Homo sapiens: one gene and its partners. The protein of the gene in region 4 purifies or fractionates together with the protein of the main gene of each other region. This does not show direct contact. Each region holds a gene or a part of one and is shown on either strand. Other genes may lie near its edges.

Region 1 (4,976 bases), on a different chromosome or scaffold from region 4:
CGGCCCAGCCCTAGTAGTACTTTACCACTGAATTCTCAAGCAAAAAGTTCTTAACCTTCCCTTCTCACCAGTTGTGTGGATTTTGACTTTCTGGTATGACTCACGCGTCATTTTCTTTCCCCAATGTGAAGTAACATTTGGAGAAACAAACGCTTGTTGAGTTGAATTATCAAAGAATTGTAAGGAAGGGGCTCCTGTAGTGCTAGCTGCTCCAGAGGCTGAGGCAAGAGGATTGCTTGAACCCAGGAGTTCAAGACTGTAGTGTGAGTGCACTCTTGTTGTGCCTGTGAATAACCACTCCACTCTAACCTAGGAAGCATAGTGAGACCATGTCTCTTAAAAAAAATGTAGGAAAGATATTGCATGGGCTGCATTAAGGCCTTTAATGTGGTAGCTTTATTTCACAAGTAAGGGAAGCCTTGGAAGATCAGATTATCTTTATTGGGTTATGCAGTTATTGAATGGTGGAGAGGAGCCTAAAGCACATCTTTTTAGTGCAATGTTCTTTAATAATTATTACTAGTCTTACTAGAAATGGAAAGACTTATGGTGGTTCATTTTCCAATTTAGAATCCTTGTCTTGTCATTTCAGCAGGTGTCGCTTTAAAAAAAAAACCAGAATCCTCATCTGATTGGGTTTAAATATTGGTAGGGTTCTTGAGGACTGAGAGGGCAAAGGAAAGGGAACCTAGTTCTTAGCAAAGCAGAGAGTTCTAGGTGTGGAAGGCTGGATGGCAGAAGACCACAGTGAGGAAAAAAATGCTGTCAGCCGGGCGCGGTGGCTCACGCCTGTAATCCCAGCACTTTGGGAGGCCAAGGCGGGCGGATCACGAGGTCAGGACATCGAGACCATCCTGGCTAACACGGTGAAACCCCGTCTCTACTAAAAATACAAAAGATTAGCCGGGCGTGGTGGCACACACCTGTAGTCCCAGCTACTGAGGAGGCTGAGACAGGAGAATCGCTTGAACCCGGGAGGAGGAGGTTGCAGTGAGCCGAGAGCGTGCCACTACACTCCAGCCTGGGCAACAGAGCGAGACTCTGTCTACAAAAAAAAAAAGAAAAAATGCTGTCAGAAGCTGTGTAAATGAGAAGCAGTTGCAGGCTCAGAATGGTTTCTATGTCTTTTAAAAGGATCTGGTCTTAGGGTCAGGCGTGGTGGCTCATGCCTGTAATCCCAGCACTTTGGGAGGTTCAGGCGGGTGGATCACCTGAGGTCAGGAGTTCAATACCAGCCTGGCCAACATAGCGAAACCCTGTCTCTACTAAAAATACAAAATTAGCCATATGTGGTGGCAGGCGCCTGTAATCTCAGCTACTTGGGAGGCTGAGGCAGGAGAATCACTTGAACCTGGGAAATAGAGGCTGCAGTGAGCCAGAATCGTGCCACTGCATTCCAGTCTGGGCCACAGAGTAAGACTCAAAAAAAAAAATCTGGTCTGGGGTCAGCCACATCACTTAATTCTATGTGCATAACAATTATATCCTTGGGCTGAAGCTGTTCCCTCTACATTGTCACCTATGCTGAGAGTAAAGATAAGTACCAGGTTGTAAGGTATCCTGTTTCATTTTTCTCTGTTTCTCCTCATTTCTAACTCTCCTATTTCATACCTTCTGGTGGCATGTCTGAGAAGTATATTATGTCTAATGACCTTTCTCTGGCCCTACTTTGCTATCTTGGAAGTACAAAATGAACTTTTTTTTTTTTGAGACAGAGTTTCACTCTTATTGCCCAAGCTGGAGTGCAATGGTGCCATCTCGGCTCACCGCAACCTCTGCCGCCCATGTTCAAGCGTTTCTCCTGCCTCAGCCTCCTGAGTAGCTGGGATTACAGGCATGCGCCACCAAGCCCAGCTAATTTTGTATTTTTACTAGAGATGGGGTTTCTCCAGGTTAGTCAGGCTGGTCTCTAACTCCCAACCTCACATGATCCACCCGCCTTGGCCTCCCAAAGTGCTGGGATTACAGGCTTGAGCCACTGCACCTGGCCTAAAATGAACGTCTTTATAGGTAACATCCAGACCCTGCAGTGAGTTAGCTAGGGAGATGAATGTTGAATTTGGGAAAAGGCATGTATTACGTGTAACTTCACTCTTTTTTTCTGACTTCTCCCTGTAAATCTTCTTCTGTATGATTTATTTTGGTAGATTTAGATAGGTCTTCTGGCCATGGTTGTTGAGATGTTTGTTATTGAAAGATCAAAGGATAGCTGTTGCTTAATGGTAAAACAAATTTCCAACAGGCTCAGTTTTAGTTCCCTTATTCCTAAAGTATAGATAACACAAAAGCAAGAATTTTGTTTTTAGAAAATTAGCTACTTTGACAAAAAACAACAAAATTTGTGGTACAGTATTATTTATTGAACCACTTTTTTTTTGAGACGGAGTCTCCCTCTGTCGCCCAGGCTGGAGCGCAGTGGCGCAATCTCTGCTCACTGTGACCTCCGCCTCCCGAGTTCAAGCGATTCTCCTGCCTCAGCCTCCCGAGTAGCTGGGACTACAGGCGCATGCCACTACCCCGGCTAATTTTTTGTATTTTTAGTAGAGACGGGGTTTCACCATGTTAGCCAGAATGGTCTCGATCTCCTGACCTCGTGATCTGCCCACCTCAGCCTCCCAAAGTGCTGGGATTACAGGCGTGAGCCACCATGCCCAGCTGAACCACTTCTTACAGTTGTATCAAGAGAGTAGCGGCTGGGTGCAGTGCCTCAGTCTTGTATTCTCAGCAATTTGGGAGGCTAAGAATGGTGGATCACTTGAGGCCAGGAGTTCGAGACTAGCCTGGCCAACATGGCGAAACCCCGTCTTTACTAAAAATACAAAAATTAGCCATGCATGGTGGCACAGGTCTGTAATCCCAGCTACTCCGTAGGCTGAGGCAGAAGAGCCGCTTGAACCTGGGAGGCAGAGACTGCAGTGATGCCCCATATCATATATGGAATGCATCCCCATTTACACCTAAAATTTGAAACAGAATCTGAGAAACAAAATATTTCTAATCTCCTTCCTGATCCTCTTCACTGATACCAGGTTTGCAGAAAATATAAGGCCAGCTCTTATCTTTTGAGAGAAGACTCTTATTTCTTTGTCTAAGATTGTCTATACCCCTTTTTATCTGCCTCTTTTAAAAATCCTTGTCCAGCCACTATATTTTTAATTTAATCAACACTCAGTTTTTGCTTTTCCTGTTTTTTTTTCTGTTTTTTGTTTGTTTGTTTGTTTGTTTGTTTGAGACGATGTCTCGCTCTTGTCCCCCAAGCTGGAGTGCAGTGGCATGATCTCGGCTCACTGCAACCTCCGCCTCCCAGGTTCAAGTGATTCTCCTGCCTCAGCCCCCCGTGTAGCTGGGATTACAGGCACTTGCCACCACGCCTGGCTAGTTTTGGTATTTTTAGTAGAGACGGGGTTTCACCATGTTGGCCAGGCTGGTCTCGAACTCCTGACCTCAGGTGATCCACCCGCCTCTGTCTCCCAAAGTGCTGGGATTACAGGTGTGAGCCACCACACCCAGCCCACATACTACTTTTATGGTTCTCTTTTTGTTGGTGACTGGCATTTTACACAAACCTATTTCCTGGGTCGAAGTGTTAATATTAGAGAGCCGGAGAGTGGTCAGTGTGACACCCTGTGGTTTCAACCCTGGCTGCCTATTAGGATCACCTAGGGAACGAACCATCAAGAAAACAAAACTAATGCCAGGGCCCAATCTGAGATGAATCAGAATCTCCAGGGGTTGCAACCTGGATGGCAGCATTTTAAAAAACATACCATGAGATTTCACCAGGATTGAAAATTATTATAATAGACTTGTAGCCTCCTGGCTGGGCACAGTGACTCATGCCTGTAATCCCAGCACTTTGGGAGGCTGAGGGGGGCGGATCATTTGAGGTTAGGAGTTCAAGACCAGCCTGGCCAACATGGTAAAACCCCGTCTCTACTAAAAATATAAAAATTAGCCGGGTATGATGGTGCATACCTGTAATCCCAGCTATTCGGGAGGCTGAGGCAGGAGAATCGCTTGAACCTGGGAGCTGGAGGTTGCAGTGAGCCGAGATCGCGCCACTGCACTCCAGCCTGGGTGACAAAGTGAGACCCTGTCTCAAAAAAAAAAAGGCTTGTAGCCTCCTTAAGGACAGAAACCTATGCTTTTTCATTTGTGTATCTCTTGGATTTACCAAAGTGTCTGGCACATCCAAAGCTCTCATTAAATGTCTACTTAATGAACATAAATGTTCCTTTATCTTTTTTGTCACTTATTTAATGTTTGTCAAACTTTTTTACTGAAGTGTCGTTAACAGCAGAGGAGAGTGAATGAACTATAGGGGTTCTGCTACTATAAGCAAACATGGAATTTCTTTGAAGCTTCCCTAAATTAAAATGTAAGGTGAACTTCGTATTCGTTGCCATTGCATCTGTTTTATGGGTAACACCCCCACTCCTTCGAGTTAAAATTGGTGCCTCCAGGCAGATGCATCAAATTTGTCCAGAAACTTGTATCCTTTGGCATTCTGTTAATTACCCTGGTTAAGAAGCACAGTATTACCTTTTCTTCAGGGATTAAAACACCAAAGTAGGAGTAGGATTTGGAAAAAAGCAATTTACATTGCTTAAAAAGAAAAGAATTATATTCTTTTCTTTTTAAGAAAGAAGAGGAGTGGTTAGAAAAATAAATTTGGCCAGGCGCGGTGGCTCACCCCTGTAAGCTCAGCACTTTGGGAGGCCGAGGCGGGTGGATCATCTGAGGTCAGGAGTTCAAGACCAGCCTGGCCAACATGATGAAACCCTGTCTCTACTAAAAAAAATACAAAAATTGGCCGGGCGCGGTGGCTCATGCCTGTAATCCCAGCACTTTGGGAGGCTGAGGGGGGCGGATCACGAGGTCAGGAGATCGAGACCATCCTGGCTAACACAGTGAAACCCCGTCTCTACTAAAAATACAAAAAATTAGCTGGGCGCCGTGGCGGGCGCCTATAGTCC
Region 2 (4,976 bases), on a different chromosome or scaffold from region 4:
TGGGGAACTGGATCTTCGCCGAGAGCCAAAGAACCACTGTTATAGTCACAAGGGGGGACGTAACTACCAGGGTCGCCAGCCTAAGGCCGCGATCAATCTCAGCATCGCTAACTGTGGGCCAACCCGACATCGAGGACCTCCTGATGGGACGCAATGTGACACACACACCACCAGTGAGGACTTCTTCTCAAAAATACTCAGCCCTCATCACTGAGCCCTGTAGATTCAGTTTCCACTTCACAGGAAACACAGGGATCAGAGGGTTAATTAAGTTCAGTGATATCAGAGAAAACAAAATCAATCCAGAAGGTGAGACATCCTACAGGGCAGCTGGTCCAGCCTTTTTTTTTCTTAATTTTTTTTATTTACTTTCTTTTTTTTTTTTTTTTTTTGAGACGGAGTCTCACTCTGACGCCCAGACTGGAGTGCAGTGGTGCGATCTCGGCTCACTGCAAGCTCCGCCTGCCGGGTTCACACCATTCTCCTGCCTCAGCCTCCCAGGTAGCTGGGACTACGGGCGCTCGCCACCACACCCGGCTAATTTTTTGTATTCTTTTAGTACAGACAGGGTTTCACCATGTTAGCCAGGATGGTCTCGATCTCCTGACCTCGTGATCCACCTGCCTCAGCCTCCCAAAGTGCTGGGATTACAGGCGTGAGCCATCGGGCCTGGCCCAGCCTTTTCAACTCATGAGAAATGAAGAGCTGGGAGGGGCTGTCCCATGTCAAAGGAACTAAGGCACCACCAAGCACCACCACACGCATCATGGGGACTCTGACTGAATTCTTGTTTGAACAAATCAAAATATTTGGGGGACAAATAAACTGATTTGCTTTGTTCAGCGTATTCATAAAAATGTGGTTAAGTATGAAAACATCCTTATTTTTTAGAGTTGCATCCGAAGCATTTAGAGGTAAAATGTCATGACGTCTGTACTTTAAAATCCTTCCCAAACACAGCAAATAACAGATGGAAAAATCATTCTTCTTCTTAAATCTAGATAATAGGTATATGGGTGGCATATCACTCTACTTTTCTGAAGGCTTAAAATTTTTCATAGTAAAAAGCAAAAATCATAATAAAGAAGACAGAGAAAGAATAGGAGCACGGACTGCCCTCTCCAGAACCCCCTTATCCTGGGCCATTGCACGCAGTCACTTACTCAAATAATAATTGACTACGCGCCTACATTGCTAGGGCTTTGAAGTTCCATGAAGAAATCACAAGTGAAATTCAAAGCTGCACGAGGCTTCATGGCACTGTGAGGTCCGTGCCCAGCCCCAGCACTCTGCAGGCCTCTTGCACCTGCTCCTAGCAGGGAGGAGGAGCAGCCCACAGCTCCCGCATCGAGCTCCCGGCTCAGGCACTGAGCTCGACTCCTGCAGCCATGCTGCCCCATTACCCTCCCCAGCCTTCGGCCTGGAAGTTCCACAGAGCAGACCCAGTGCTGAAGCCCGTGGGACGCATCCTCACGTCTAAGAAAAGGCATCCTTCTATCATAACCAGGGATGTTATATCGGCTCCGAACATTTAGGATACCAGAGCTGGGCCAGTCAAGGGCATCCTTCTATCATAACCAGGGATGTTGTATTGGCTACAAACATTTACGATACCAGAGCTGGGCCAGCCTCATGGATCACCTAATATGATTCCCTCTCCATTATTTTACAGATGAAACTGCTGAGCTCAGAGAGGAAAAGGGACAAATTCAGTATGTCACAGCACTGCAGCAGCAAAAGAGCCTGGACCAGAATCCAGGGCTGCTGACCCGGGCCTGACTTCTTTCTTTTAGGCCACATGGCCTCCTGCCTCACTTGCAGCTCTGAACTCCCAGGGCCCTGGGGTGTGCCCACATCTGCGCCAATGCAAGACCAAGTTCGGATAGCAGAACTCCAAACAGGAAATGTCTCTTGTGCAGAGCGAAATGGCGAATGGCTCATGGGGCGGCCTCTTTGAAAATGGGTCATCTTTCTCTGACAGAACCAGAAGTCCGCTTCTCAGGGCCCACGTGTGCAGCTGGGGTTGGGGGCAAGGGGAAGCTGACCCAGCAGAGGATATTTAAGTCATGTGCCCGCTCCAAACTCATATTTCAGATTCCTCTGTCTAGCCAATCAGAGCACATGCCTGTCACTCACACTGCTCCTGTCTCTCTCAGTTCTATTTTCAATCTGGGCTTGTAGAGCTCAGACAAGTTCTGTCCTCCTTGGTCCCTGTGAGGGGAGGGGGTCCCTTGTTTGCTGCAGAAGCCTGTCCCACCCAACTTCTTCTGGGGGGTGAAGAGGAGGGAGGTGGAGGGACCAAGGAGGTCCCTTCCTCATGAAAAGCATGCCACTTCTCACACAGACCTCACGCTGGGATAGCTACAAAAGGCACCTACTCATTTCTACAGCAAATCTTTTTGTGTGGTTGCATTCGAGACAGCATTGTGAGGTTACTGGGCTAACTCTCATTCATCCTTCAGGTATCCAGTTAATTGTCACTTCCTAAGGAAAGTCTGCAAAACCCCAAGCCAGCATAGGGCCCTGCCATGTGCTCCCCCATCCCCTTCATTCCTGTCATTGTAATCATCACACCGTATTATAGCTGCCTGTTCATTTTCGCACCTTTCTAGTAGAGAACGTAAGCTCTGTGAGGGCAAGGAACCTTTGTTTCACTCAAGGAATCCCCAGTACCGAGCCCGGTGCTTGAATGTAGCAGGTGCTCAATTAACACAGGGAGGACTGGAATGAAAACCTTCCCTGAGGGGCTGCAGTCCATCCAACAAGGACAGCGGCCAGGGCCTAAGAAGTGTACGGGTCAAGTGCAGAGGGAGTTCCAAGGAGAAGGAGACATCTTCTAGCTTGGTTTCCTAAAGGAGGAATATTCGCAGGGACCCTGAAGAAGGCAGCCGGCCAAGATGATCTGGGGCAGTTCAGGTGGATGCAGGAGCAGTGTGAACAAGAGGCAGTAAAACGCAGGGTGGTTCCCGCACACTGCCCAGTCTGTCCGGAGCGCAGGCTGAGGAAGGGCAGGGCCAATGAGACATCTGGGCCACCTGTGAACACTCCGCCTGGGGAGCCACTGCCCTGTGAGCCAAGGCCCCTCGCTGGGAGGCATGAGCCCAGTGCCTGTGTTTTGCAGAGCATCAATAAAAGAAATTCTAGAACTTTGCAGCCCTTTTATAATTTTGCTGCAAGAAGCCCTTTTTTTTTTACATCATTCTTATATTCTATTTTAATAGTAGTCATTTCCTTTTGCTTTGTTCTCAGAGGACTAAGATAAGCTAATCACCATCCTTGGCAAAAGGAGACTTTGAAGCCTTAAAAAGGCTGTCTTGTGATACTATTTCCAAGTATCACAAGACAGTAAAAGTGGCATATCATCTGGGAGAGGGGCCGACGTGGACCACAGTGTGTGCCCTGTGAAAGCCTGGCACCACCCACACTCCCTGACCACCTGTGCTCTCATGCCCCAGTTGCTGTCAGGAAGCATGTGATTACACCGAATTATCTCTAGTTGTCAGGCTGGGATAAAATAGATCACATATATCTTAGGACCTAGGTCAGGGATGGCAAGTGAAAAGCAGGCCCACAGTGTCACAGAGGGGTAATTAAAGTAAGGACAGATGTGGCTCCTGAAGGGCTGCTGAATTCTCTCTGCTCAGAACTCTTCGATCATAGGGCATATTTGAGATCACTCATAACAAAGAATAGATAGCAAGCCAGACACAGCAAAAACAAAGTCGGCCTAAATTCACTTTAGCGAGTGAAGGTGGCTCGCGAGAGGGGCTCAGATGATAGGCACTGCAGTTAGGGCAGCAACAGAGCTCACAGGAGGCCAGCTCTGGCCATGAGGCCATCTGCTAAGGAGACTTCCAGCATAAGAGGCCGGAGGGCGTTGAAGGCCTGGGCTGTGGCTGGCACTGGGGCAGGTGCAAGAGACACTTAGGAGTTTCAATCCGATGCACACAGTGCCTGCTCCATCTCCTGCTCTCTTCTGCAGCTTATTATCTGAGAGAACTCCTAACAGGAAGACACTGCAGGGGAAATGCCAACCACAAAGGCCACAGATAGTGCTGTCCGTCCCTTGCGGCTTGAGGGAAAAGGAGCATTTGGTCTGCTTCCTCCCCCCGACAGTGCCACATCCTCCTGCCCACCCCCATCACTGGCCCGCTATCCACCAGCTATTTCCCCCACCAAAATTATTTTTAACTTTCATCTCCCTTTGAAGGTCACTAGGAGAAAGCACATTCAACAGTGGCATTAACCCCCACCCCAAGCTCTGTATGGGCCTGACCCAAGGCTGGGGGCTCCCAATGGACTCACCAATCCAGCAGCTCTGCCCCAGCCGCTGCCCTGTGAGCCAAGGCCCCTCACTCGGAGGCATGCGCCCAGTGCTTCTCGGGAAACCTGCCTTTTGTGATGGGAGGGGAGGAGGAGGCAGCAGTGACCTGCAGCCCCTGGGAGCCCACACAGTGCTCTGAGGTCAGAATACACCTATCAACTCCACAGAGCTTGGCCATGCCTGTCTACATGGGGAGACTGCAGAAGGCTGCAGGCAGAAGGGTGTCCATTTGGCCCCCAGAACCCTCTAACTGCCCATTTTTGCAGGGAGACGGGCTCCTTCGTGCTCTCCAGTCCTAACGGAATGGAGTTAAAGAAGCCGTGTTGCAGATGTTCCCACCTCCCCATAAACCACAGAAAACTTCTCTGTGCCCTGGTATCATTGGCATGGGCTTGGCTTAGGGCACCTGGCCAGGATTCTCCATACCACTTCCCAAAAAAGGTGTCATAGTCTGAGTTCCCAGAGAGCTGCGTGCTAGAACACTGGGAATGGATGGGAATGGTCTGCTGTGGGAGTAGCCTGCCGGTCCCAGCACGGGCAGGTGGCTCAGGACAGAGGCTCTGGTGCCCAGCAGATGTAAACTCCAGCCCCTACGCAGCTTCTTACCAGCTGTGTCACTTTAGGCTCCAGGACAGAAATGCTAAAGGGTATT
Region 3 (4,976 bases), on a different chromosome or scaffold from region 4:
TTTACTGATGAGAAAACAGCCAGAGAGTGAAAGCTGATGATTACAAATCACAGCCATGAGAGCTGGGCTCTGCACTCAGCCCTGCTGGGCTGGGTGGCCGCTGCTCACGGTGACCCTTCAAGGCAGGCCTCATTCTGTCCAGTAGAGGTGTGGTTACTAAGTCATAGAGCTACAGAGGTGAGGGACCAGGTGCCCTCACTTTGGTTCCAAGACCCATCTGCACCCCACAAATGCCACCAGCCACACCTAGAACAAAATGGTTTTAATCAATTGCGTCACCCTCACTCTCCTGGGAGCGGAGCAACAAAAAGGCTCGGCTCCTGCCCCCAGAGGACAGTAAGGCTTATGTGTCTCTCCACACTGCAGGGCCCAGGCTGGGCAGGCAGGGGGTGGGAAGCAGGACAGGGGGCAGGGAGGGAGGGTGGGAGGCAGGGAGGAAATGGCAGGTGGCTGGAACACAAGAAAGCAAAGGGGACCCAGCTGGTCCTTGGGCCCCAGGGCCCAGCCCCAATACTCCTGCTCTCCCTTCTCCCTGGCTAGAGAAAGGTCACGGAGAAGAGACAGGGGAGCAGGTCCCAGCAGCAGGAGAAGCAGCAGCAGCTGTTTCCTTCACCAATAAATATACTTCATTACCAAGCTAGAAGAGAGGGGTGGGAAGAGGGACTGGGGTGGGAAGGAAGGGGGAGAAGCTGCCACCTGTGTTGCTGGGATTAAAGCAATGAGATGGTGCCAGACCCCCCACCACTATCCTCACCCTCCACTTGTCTTCTTAAAACTGTGAAAAAGCTTTTAACATGGCCCTCCTGTCTCCAGGGCTGCTCTGAAGCCTGACTGAGAGGAGGCACCTGGCAGAGACAGGGGCTGAGGGAGGGAGCGAGGGAGTGGAGGGAGAGGAGAAGGGAGGCTGCTTTTCCCCAGGGGCTGCAGCTGGAGGGCTGGAGCCAAGTAAGCACTGAAGGGGAAGCAGGGAGGGAGAGAGGGGGAAGGATGAACCAACTACCTGGAGCAGCTGGAGCTAAGAGCCGGGGGCAGAGGGGAGGAGAGGCCTGGTGAGTGGTGGGTTGATCGCTGCATCCAGTGTAAAGCTTGGGGCTGCTGGGGAGGGAGGGGCCGAGTAAGGGACTTTCCCATCTGAGTGGCTCAGGAGACCCACCCCTCTCCCCTCAGAGCAGCAGGGGACAGAGAAAAGCCATCACTTCTTTGGTCTTTGTGGCGGCTCAGCATGTGGGATGGGAAGGAGGGCAGAAAGGGCAGAGAAGGGCCCTTAGCAGGAAGCGCCACCTCAGCAGAGTAGGCCTGGCTGGGAGCTCTGGCAGAAAGGTCACAGTGAGGCTGAGGAGCGCCCAAGAGGAGAATGGCCGTAGTGCAGAAGTGCTGGCATGGATGGGTGGGGTAAGGTGCAGTGCCCCACCCTCTGCCAGGGCCCTTGGGAAAGGCAGAGCCTCCAGAGGTGGCCAGTGAGAGTAGGTGCAGGGCCAGAGCTAGTAGCCAGGAGAGGAGCGAGGGTGCTCCACAGCGACCTCAGCAGGTGGCCTGGTCTTGCCCACTCCAGGGCTCCCATCCTTCCTTTGGGCTCCGCTCTAACACTGGTGGCTCTGGAGGGAGGGTGGGACCCATCCTTTTTCAAAACCTTTCCTGAAGACCACAGGGGAGCTAGCCTTGCAGGCTAGGGAGCAAGAGTGGCAACAGGCCAAGGCGAGCCCTTACCAATTGGGAATCCCACTCCTCCTGCTGCTGCCAGCTAAAGGGCAGGACAGTCCCTGAAGACAGTTCAGCTTGTTCCTCCCCACCTGAGGCAGAAGGGGTTTTGAGGCAGGCCAGAGCCCTCCAGGGACATGAAAGCAGGAGATGGGGGGGGGCATATGGAGGGGTGTCCCCTCCTGCTCTTTTTTTCAGGGCTGGGGATAGTCAGGGGACAATCAGCCCAGAGTCCGAAAGCCAGCAAGTTGTAGCAACCTCCACCCCTAACGCCAAACTAACAAACAAAACAGGGGAAATGAAAAAAAAGGGTGGTGGGGAAGACAAACCAAAACAGAATCCCCTGACCTCCTGCCCAGGGCAGAGGGTCCAGCCAGTAGCAGGGGCTGGGGACCAGGGCTGGAGGGTCTAGCTGGGCCGGCACTGCACCTGGCCCTCAGAGCTGTCCTCATCATCAGAGGCCCCGGCACCCCCACTGCTCAGGCCCGTGATCCGGTAGCCCATGTTGAGCAGCATCACCTCCAACGGGTCTGCATTCATGCGCCGCTGGTTGGCCTGTGAAGCACCCTCCATATCTTCCACGACTCGGCCTGTGAGGTCTTCACTCTGTGGTGGAGAAAGGGGTGACACACGTGGGGCTCAGGGAGGGAGAGGCACCAGGGTACACGTATAGGGGAGGGGGAGGGAAATACACAGACTAAACTATCTATAGGGGGAGGTACACATACATGCCAGGAGGTGTATATGGTGGAGGGGAACACACAACCTTGGCTACATATTGTTGGGGGTGCTCACGCTGGAATATATATGGGAGATACGCCACCTCAGGATATACAGGCAGGTCATAACATGCTGGGATATACGTGGGGGACAGTACACACCAGGATATGTTGGACACACATACTGGGATACCTGGGACAAGGGGCAGATACAACTTCCCCACCCCATTCTGTTTTGTTGCCACAACTCTTGCTTCATCTTTCTTTCTCCTCTCCTCTCAATGGGGAAGCCTATAGGGGTCCTCTCTTTAAAAGTCACAGCAAATTATCTTGGGAATCAGACATACCACTTGACTTTTGTTTTGCCAGCTGGGAAGAGGGAAGCAGTAGGGCAGAGGGGAAGGGGAGGCACCAAGCCAGCTTCCCTGGCTACCCACCCTGGGAGTGGAGGGGACTCCACTGTCCTAAGTGTCCTTGTGGGCTGGACACTTCACAGGCATCTCTTCTTTACTTCTCACCACAACCTTTCAAGGTGGTGCTGTCATTCCCATTCCCAATGTACAGATGATTAAAAGCCTGGGTCAGAGATGGTGAAGTCTCTCAGGCAGCGAGTGAGGAGACTGGATTCAAACTTAGGCCTACCAGATGCCAAAGCCTGCATAGTTCCCTTGTGACCAGGGCCTCTGCACAGCTTCTGGAGAATTGCTGCTGCATTTGGAGCTTCTGGAATCTGAGAACACAGCCTTGGGCCCCGGGGTAAGGCTTACTTAGCAGCTTCTAGCCTCTGGGTGGCTCATTTCTCTTCCCTGCGCTAGCAGGCTCCACTGGAGCCTTCCACAGAGTCCCTGCCCTCCTCTCTGCTTGGCTCTGCACCCTCACCTCTGGTCGGGGGTTCCAGAGCCGCACAACAGGATCGATGCCACTGGTGGCCAGGAAGCAGTAGCTGGGGTGTGGCTGCAGGCAGTTGACAATGGACTCATCCCCTTGGAGCACACGGACCAGGTTGGTGGTCTCCTTTTCCCAGATGAAGAAGGAGCCATCGTCAGAGCCACTGACGATATACTGAGCGTTGCTGGCGGGGGGGCAAAGGGCAGGGAGGTCAGGTGGGGTACTGCCCTACAGCCTCAAGTAGAGGCTGCATGGCCTAGGTAAAGGGGGAGCAAGGAAGTCTGCAGCCACTCAGTCCCCCACACGCTGGGGTGTGCACTTGACCCAGAATTCCTCCAGGTATATAGCCCTGGTCACTGTTCTCTTAAACCTAGGGCCAGCGACTACCTGGATTTCTCCAAGACAGTCTCCCCTATAGTTCATTATTACCTCCTTGGGCCAGGATCATCTTACATCATCTCTCGGGTCTCCAAAATACCCTGTTTTAAGCCTCCCCTGAGCAGTTCCAGGCTTCTGGCATCCAGACTCCCCCTGCCCCTCACACACCACTGACATTTAGAGGGCATCTTGATGGATTCTTTTTTTTTCTTAGAGACAGGGTCTCATTCTGTCACCCAAGCTGGAGTACAGTGGCATGATCATGGCTCACTGTGGCCTTAACTGGTCCTCCAATGTCAACCTCCTGAATAGCTGGGACTACAGGTGCACGTCACCACACCCAGATAATTTAAAACATTTTTTGTAGAGATGGGGGTCTATGCTGTCCAGGCTGGTCTCAAACTCCTGGGCTCAAGCGATCCTCCTGCTTCAGCCTCCCCAAGTGCTGGGATTACGGGCATGAGCCACTGTGCCTGGCCTATGGAGAGATTCTTGATTCATGTTCATGTGTCTCACCTACCCAAAGAAAGTACATCTACAAATGAGGGGTGGGGATGATGGTGTCTGAAACACAGAGTTTGTCCCTTAGTACACAGGGCACAGTTTTGAGCACAAAACAGATGTGCCAAGATTCCCAGCCTTGGAGGGCTGCTGCCTCATACTCTCAAGCAGAGGGAGGTTCCTTGAATGCAGATAAAGAAACCAAGCTCTGGCACATGCAGACAGAGGGAGAAGGAGGTGGGGGATGAAGGAGTAGTTCAGGCACTGCGCTGGAGGCTCTACTTGGGTTATCTTATTAGTCCTTGTTATGGCCTCATAAATGGGCATGGCAGGTTGGTCATTTCATAGATTAAAAAACTTTAGAGGCTGACAAAGGTGAAGCCATTTGCCCAAGGGTACAGAGGCAGAGCAGGGATTTGAGATTCTTCTCTGAAACCATTATGCCCCAACACTCCCCACTCAACCTCCCGCTGCCAACTGGGCTGCACCCTCCTCTTCAGGGCCTCGGACCTGCCAAAGAAATTGGCCTCTTTGATATCCGTGGTGGTGTTGCAGTGGCCGCAGTAGCGGAACTGATAGTCGTAGCTTCGCTCCCGCAGCACCATTTCATCCTCTGAGATGGAGTCCTTGCGGCTCGTGCTGCGGAGGCGGACTGGGGCGCCGCCACCAGGTCCCTTCTTCTCCTCTGGGGGCAGAGATCCAGAAAAGGTAAGCGCCTTGTTCCTTTCTCTCCTTCCCTATTTTCCCCCACCTATGGCTCTGTTTTCAGTCCAAAGTCTGACAACATAGAGC
Region 4 (4,976 bases):
CAGCTTTTTTGTTTGAACCATACAACCTTCGAATCTGTCCAGCCAGTCTACTTAATTCCTTCAAAGAAATAAGAACAACTCAGGGCAAAAACATGCCAACTCACTCTAAATTAGCTATCAAGAAATGGCTACAATAAGTTCACTGAACGCTACTCCAGAAAACCCCATGTACTAGGAGTACATGTGTGCGTGTATTATACCTTATGGCATCACACCTTACAGACAAAAGATAATGATACAAGTCCAGAAACAGTGAGGTAGTGGAAAACGGAATTCGCCCTCCTGCTGGCCCTGCTGTTAAATGTTTAATATATGAAATTCTTATTTTAGCTTTTATCTAAAATCTTATGTAATACTATTTAAGTTATTAAAGAGGTTTCATTAATATACATAAATGTTTTTACAGAACATCATATAAATTTGGTACCTTCTTCCTAACTTCAGGAGATGCAATAGGGTTGGAAGTTTTAACTTTTTACCCTGAATCACAGACAATGCTCTTATATAAAAGCAATTTCACAATTTGGCTTGATTTGTTGGGTAGGAGAAAAAGACTCTGGGTTTGATTTAATCTGCTATCTTAATTTAACAATATGGATTTTTTTTTTTTTTTTTTTTTTGGAGACAGGGTCTGGCTGTGTTACCCAGGCTGGAGTGCAGTGGTACAATCATAGCTCACTACAGCCTCAAATTCCTGGGCTCAAGTGATCCTCCTACCTCAGCCTCCTGAGTAGCTGGGACTACAGGTACAGGCCACCATACCTGGCTAATTTTTAATTTTTTAGAGGCAGGGTCTTCCTATATTGCCTAGGCTAGTCTTGAACTCCTGGCCTCAAGTGATCCTCTTGCCTCGGCCTCCCAAGATGCTGGGATTATATGCAGGAGCCACTGTGCCCAGCCTAATAGTAGGGAATTCTTGGTTAACATTTTCAGAGGACTAGAGTTAGAAGTTTCAGGTAGGAACCTCAGATCTGCAGTTTTCCTAACTTATCTGAAAAATATGCAAACACTAGCACATAAAACAGATGTCTAAAAAGAGAGTTTACAATTTACATACTGTGATGTAAGGCCTAAAATTAAGGCCCAGTATTATGCACTGCCTTGACATCTGTCAAAACTGGGAATACTTCAAATAGCCTAATAGTAAGCTCCCCTCCCAACTCTGCTCCCGTAGATAAGGTCTCCTAGCTTTAAAAATCCTTTTTATACAAAATCAATGTGCAAAAATCACAAGCATTCTTATACACCAATAACAGACAAACAGCCAAATCATGAGTGAACTCTGATTCACAGTTGCTTCAAAGAGAATAAAATACCTAGGAACCCAGCTTACAAGGGATGTGAAGGACCTCTTCAAGGAGAGCTACAAACCACTGCTCAATGAAATAAAAGAGGATACAAACAAATGGAAGAACATTCCATGCTCATGGGTAGGAAAATCAATATCATTAAAATGGCCATACTGCCCAAGGTAATTTATAGATTCAATGCCATCCCCATCAGGCTACCAATGACTTTCTTCACAGACTTGGAAAAAACTACTTTAAAGTTCATATGGAACCAAAGAAGAGCCTGCATTGCCAAGTCAATCCTAAGCCAAAAGAACAAAGCTGGAGGCATCATGCTACCTGACTTCAAACTATACTACAAGGCTACAGTAACCAAAACAGCATGGTACTGGTACCAAAACAGATATAGACCAATGGAACAGAACAGAGCCCTCAGAAATAATGCCACATATATCTACAACTATCTAATCTTTGACAAACCTGAGAAAAACAAGCAATGGGGAAAGGATACCCTATTTAATAAATGGTGCTGGGAAAACTGGCTAGCCATATGTAGAAAGCTGAAACTGGATCCCTTCCTTACACCTTATACAAAAATTAATTCAAGATGGATTAAAGACTTAAATGTTAGACCTAAAACCATAAAAACCCTAGAAGAAAACCTAGGCAATACCATTCAGGACATAGGCATGGGCAAGGACTTCATGTCTAAAACACCAAAAGCAACGGCAACAAAAGCCAAAATTGACAAATGGGATCTAATTCAACTAAAGAGCTTCTGCACAGCAAAAGAAACCACCATCAGAGTGAACAGGCAACCTACAGAATGGGAGGAAATTTTTGCAATCTACTCATCTGACAAAGGGCTAATATCCAGAATCTACAATGAACTCAAATTTACAAAAAAAAAAAAACCCATCAAAAAGTGGGCAAAGGATATGAACAGACACTTCTCAAAAGACGACATTTATGCAGCCAAAAAACACATGAAAAAATGCTCATCATCACTAGCCATCAGAGAAATGCAAATCAAAACCACAATGAGATACCACCTCACACCAGTTAGAATGGCAATCATTAAAAAGTCAGGAAACAACAGGTGCTGGAGAGGATGTGGAGAAATAGGAACACTTTTACACTGTTGGTGGGACTGGAAACTAGTTCAACCATTGTGGAAGTCGGTGTGGCGATTCCTCAGGGATCTAGAACCAGAAATACCATTTGACCCAGCCATCCCATTACTGGGTATATACCCAAAGGATTATAAATCATGCTTCTATAAAGACACATGCACACGTATGTTTATTCCGGCACTATTCACAATAGCAAAGACATGGAACCAACCAACGATAGATTGGATTAAGAAAATGTGGCACATATATACCATGGAATAGTATGCAGCCATAAAAAATGATGAGTTCATGTCCTTTGTAGGGACATGGATGAAGCTGGAAACTATCATTCTCAGCAAACTATCACAAGGACAAAAAACCAAACACCGTATGTTCTCACTCATAGGTGGGAATTGAACAATGAGAACACATGGACACGGGAAGGGGAACATCACACACCAGGGACTGTTGTGGGGTCGGGGGACGGGGGGAAGGACAGCATTAGGAGATATACCTAATGCTAAATGACGAGTTAATGGGTGCAGCACCAACATGGCACACGTATACCTATGTAACAAACCTGCACGTTGTGCACATGTACCTTAAAACTTAATAATAAATAATTAAATACTTTTCATCAAGGGTCCAAGGCATAATCTCTTTATCCCTAAGGAGTTTTGGTTCCCTGCCAGCCCATGGAATTTTCCTAACAAGCCAATCACATCCTCCTATAGTAACCAGGGGGCACCTCAACCCCTGGATACTACAAAGCCCACCTCACACAGCCCCTTGCTGTTCATTCTGTTCTTGATTACAATCCCCACGTGGCCCTGTATGGTATACAGTATCTTCCTCCCCTGGGCTGTAAGTATATGAGACTCATGAACTGCTGTGAATCTCATCTGTCCAGTGTCAGGTGTCATGCATTCTGCCATTCCCAGAACTCTAGTGTGGGAATCCCTCTTTCATCAATGAGGTGAATGAGCATCAATTAAAACACATACATTGAGGCCAGGCACAGTAGCTCACGCCTGTAATCGCAGCACTTTGGGAGGCTGAGGCAGGTGGATCACCTGAGGACAGGAGTTTGAGACCAGCCTGGCCAACATCGCAAAATCCCGTCTCTACTAAAAATAGAAAAAAAATTAGCTGGGTGTGCCAGGCGCAGTAGCTCACAAGGTCAGGAGATCGAGACCACCCTGGCTAACATGGTGAAACCCCATCTCTACTAAAAATACAAAACCTTAGCTGGGCATGGTGGCAGGAGCCTGTAGTCCCAGCTACGTGGGAGGCTGAGGCACAAGAATGGCGTCAACCCAGGAGGTGGAGCTTGCAGTGAGCCAAGATTGCACCACTGCACTCCAGCCCCGGCAACAGAGTGAGACTCTGTCTCCAAAAAAAAAAAAAAAAAAAAAAATTTGTCAGGCGTGGTGGCAGACGCCTGTAATCCCAGCTGCTCAGAAGGCTGAGGCAGAAGAATTGCTTGAACCCAGGAAGCAGAGGTTGCAGTGAGCTGAGATTTTGCCATTGTACTCCAGCCTAGGTGACAAAAGCAAGACTCCATCTCAAAAAAACAACAACAAAAAACACACACATTGCAAAAAGTTCTTCCACCAGGTAATCTTCCCACAACATGCTACCAGGCAAATATTCCTCTTCCCAAAGGTTTAGTGTCTGGAAAACTGAACCTGAAAGGTTCCATCCAGACTGAGGATATCATGAACAGAGAGGCAAAGATGTTGGGCTTAAAACAGAAGACAAGGTAAAAATTTGCAAACTAAACCAAACTATATATATTCTCTTCCAGGTTCGTTACAACAGCCACCTTGGAACTTAGTAACCCAGTATAGAAAATCAAACACTTTACTAGTTTACTAAGGAATCCCAGAAGCTGGAGTTGACCATATTCTTCGGAAAGCTGTACCCTTCTGGGCCTCCCTCATGGCGAGCAGGAATTCCAGGCTTAGTGGATGTTCTACCTTCTTTGACATGTAGTGGGTCATACTCAAATCGATACATAGTCTTGGTCCTGAGTGTTTGGCTTCCAAAAGTTTGTCTTTGGTTAGAGCTCTCAGGAAACGTTTGCTGTGCTGGGGGCAAATGCCTAAAGCAGAAATATCAGAAAGAAATAAAAGTGGAAAACCAGAGGAATATTATATAAGAAACAAATCTTAGCCAGGTGGGTATTTTGCATATAAAGAGAAACTTGATACTGATGTAAGGTATTCGTTCATTAGAAGATTTACACAGAGTGGTGAGGAGTATGGGCTCTGCAGCACACAGCAGGGTTTAAATCCAAGTTCAGTTTGTTCATTGATTGGCTACATTATCTTGGGCATAATTATGTTACTTAATTTCTCTAAGCCTCAGTCTCTTCACCTACAAAATGGGAATGATAATAACAGCTCCTCTTTATTGAGGTAATCCATGTAAAATTCTTAGAACTGAACCTAACACAGAATACTGAATAAATATTAGCTGTTGCTGGTATCACTCCTATTCTGAGCTTATAAACACGTTAGTTAGATAGCTTATATTTGAAAAGCAGCCTTAAATTTTTTTTTTTGTTTTTTTT

What was found.
Region 1: the proteins of TRMT10B (region 4) and MRPS21 purify together in Homo sapiens (affinity purification with mass spectrometry; 3 studies listed by BioGRID and IntAct, with this or other methods). This does not show direct contact.
Region 2: the proteins of TRMT10B (region 4) and TUBA8 purify together in Homo sapiens (affinity purification with mass spectrometry; 3 studies listed by BioGRID and IntAct, with this or other methods). This does not show direct contact.
Region 3: the proteins of TRMT10B (region 4) and WDTC1 purify together in Homo sapiens (affinity purification with mass spectrometry; one large-scale study listed by BioGRID and IntAct). This does not show direct contact.

What each region holds. Positions count from the first base shown.
Region 1 is NC_000001.11:150,296,243-150,301,218, forward strand, and holds part of MRPS21 (small ribosomal subunit protein bS21m), read left to right. Parts: intron 1-4,976.
Region 2 is NC_000022.11:18,113,191-18,118,166, reverse strand, and holds part of TUBA8 (tubulin alpha-8 chain), read right to left. Parts: intron 1-4,976.
Region 3 is NC_000001.11:27,303,514-27,308,489, reverse strand, and holds part of WDTC1 (WD and tetratricopeptide repeats protein 1), read right to left. Parts: intron 4,870-4,976; coding exon 4,695-4,869; intron 3,490-4,694; coding exon 3,297-3,489; intron 2,305-3,296; coding exon 2,107-2,304; 3' UTR 1-2,106. UniProt on the Homo sapiens protein: May function as a substrate receptor for CUL4-DDB1 E3 ubiquitin-protein ligase complex.
Region 4 is NC_000009.12:37,763,158-37,768,133, reverse strand, and holds part of TRMT10B (tRNA methyltransferase 10 homolog B), read right to left. Parts: exon of another isoform or gene 4,506-4,976; coding exon 4,381-4,505; coding exon of another isoform or gene 4,276-4,380; exon of another isoform or gene 4,269-4,275; intron 3,529-4,268; exon of another isoform or gene 3,510-3,528; intron 59-3,509; coding exon 1-58. UniProt on the Homo sapiens protein: S-adenosyl-L-methionine-dependent guanine N(1)-methyltransferase that catalyzes the formation of N(1)-methylguanine at position 9 (m1G9) in tRNAs. Probably not able to catalyze formation of N(1)-methyladenine at position 9 (m1A9) in tRNAs.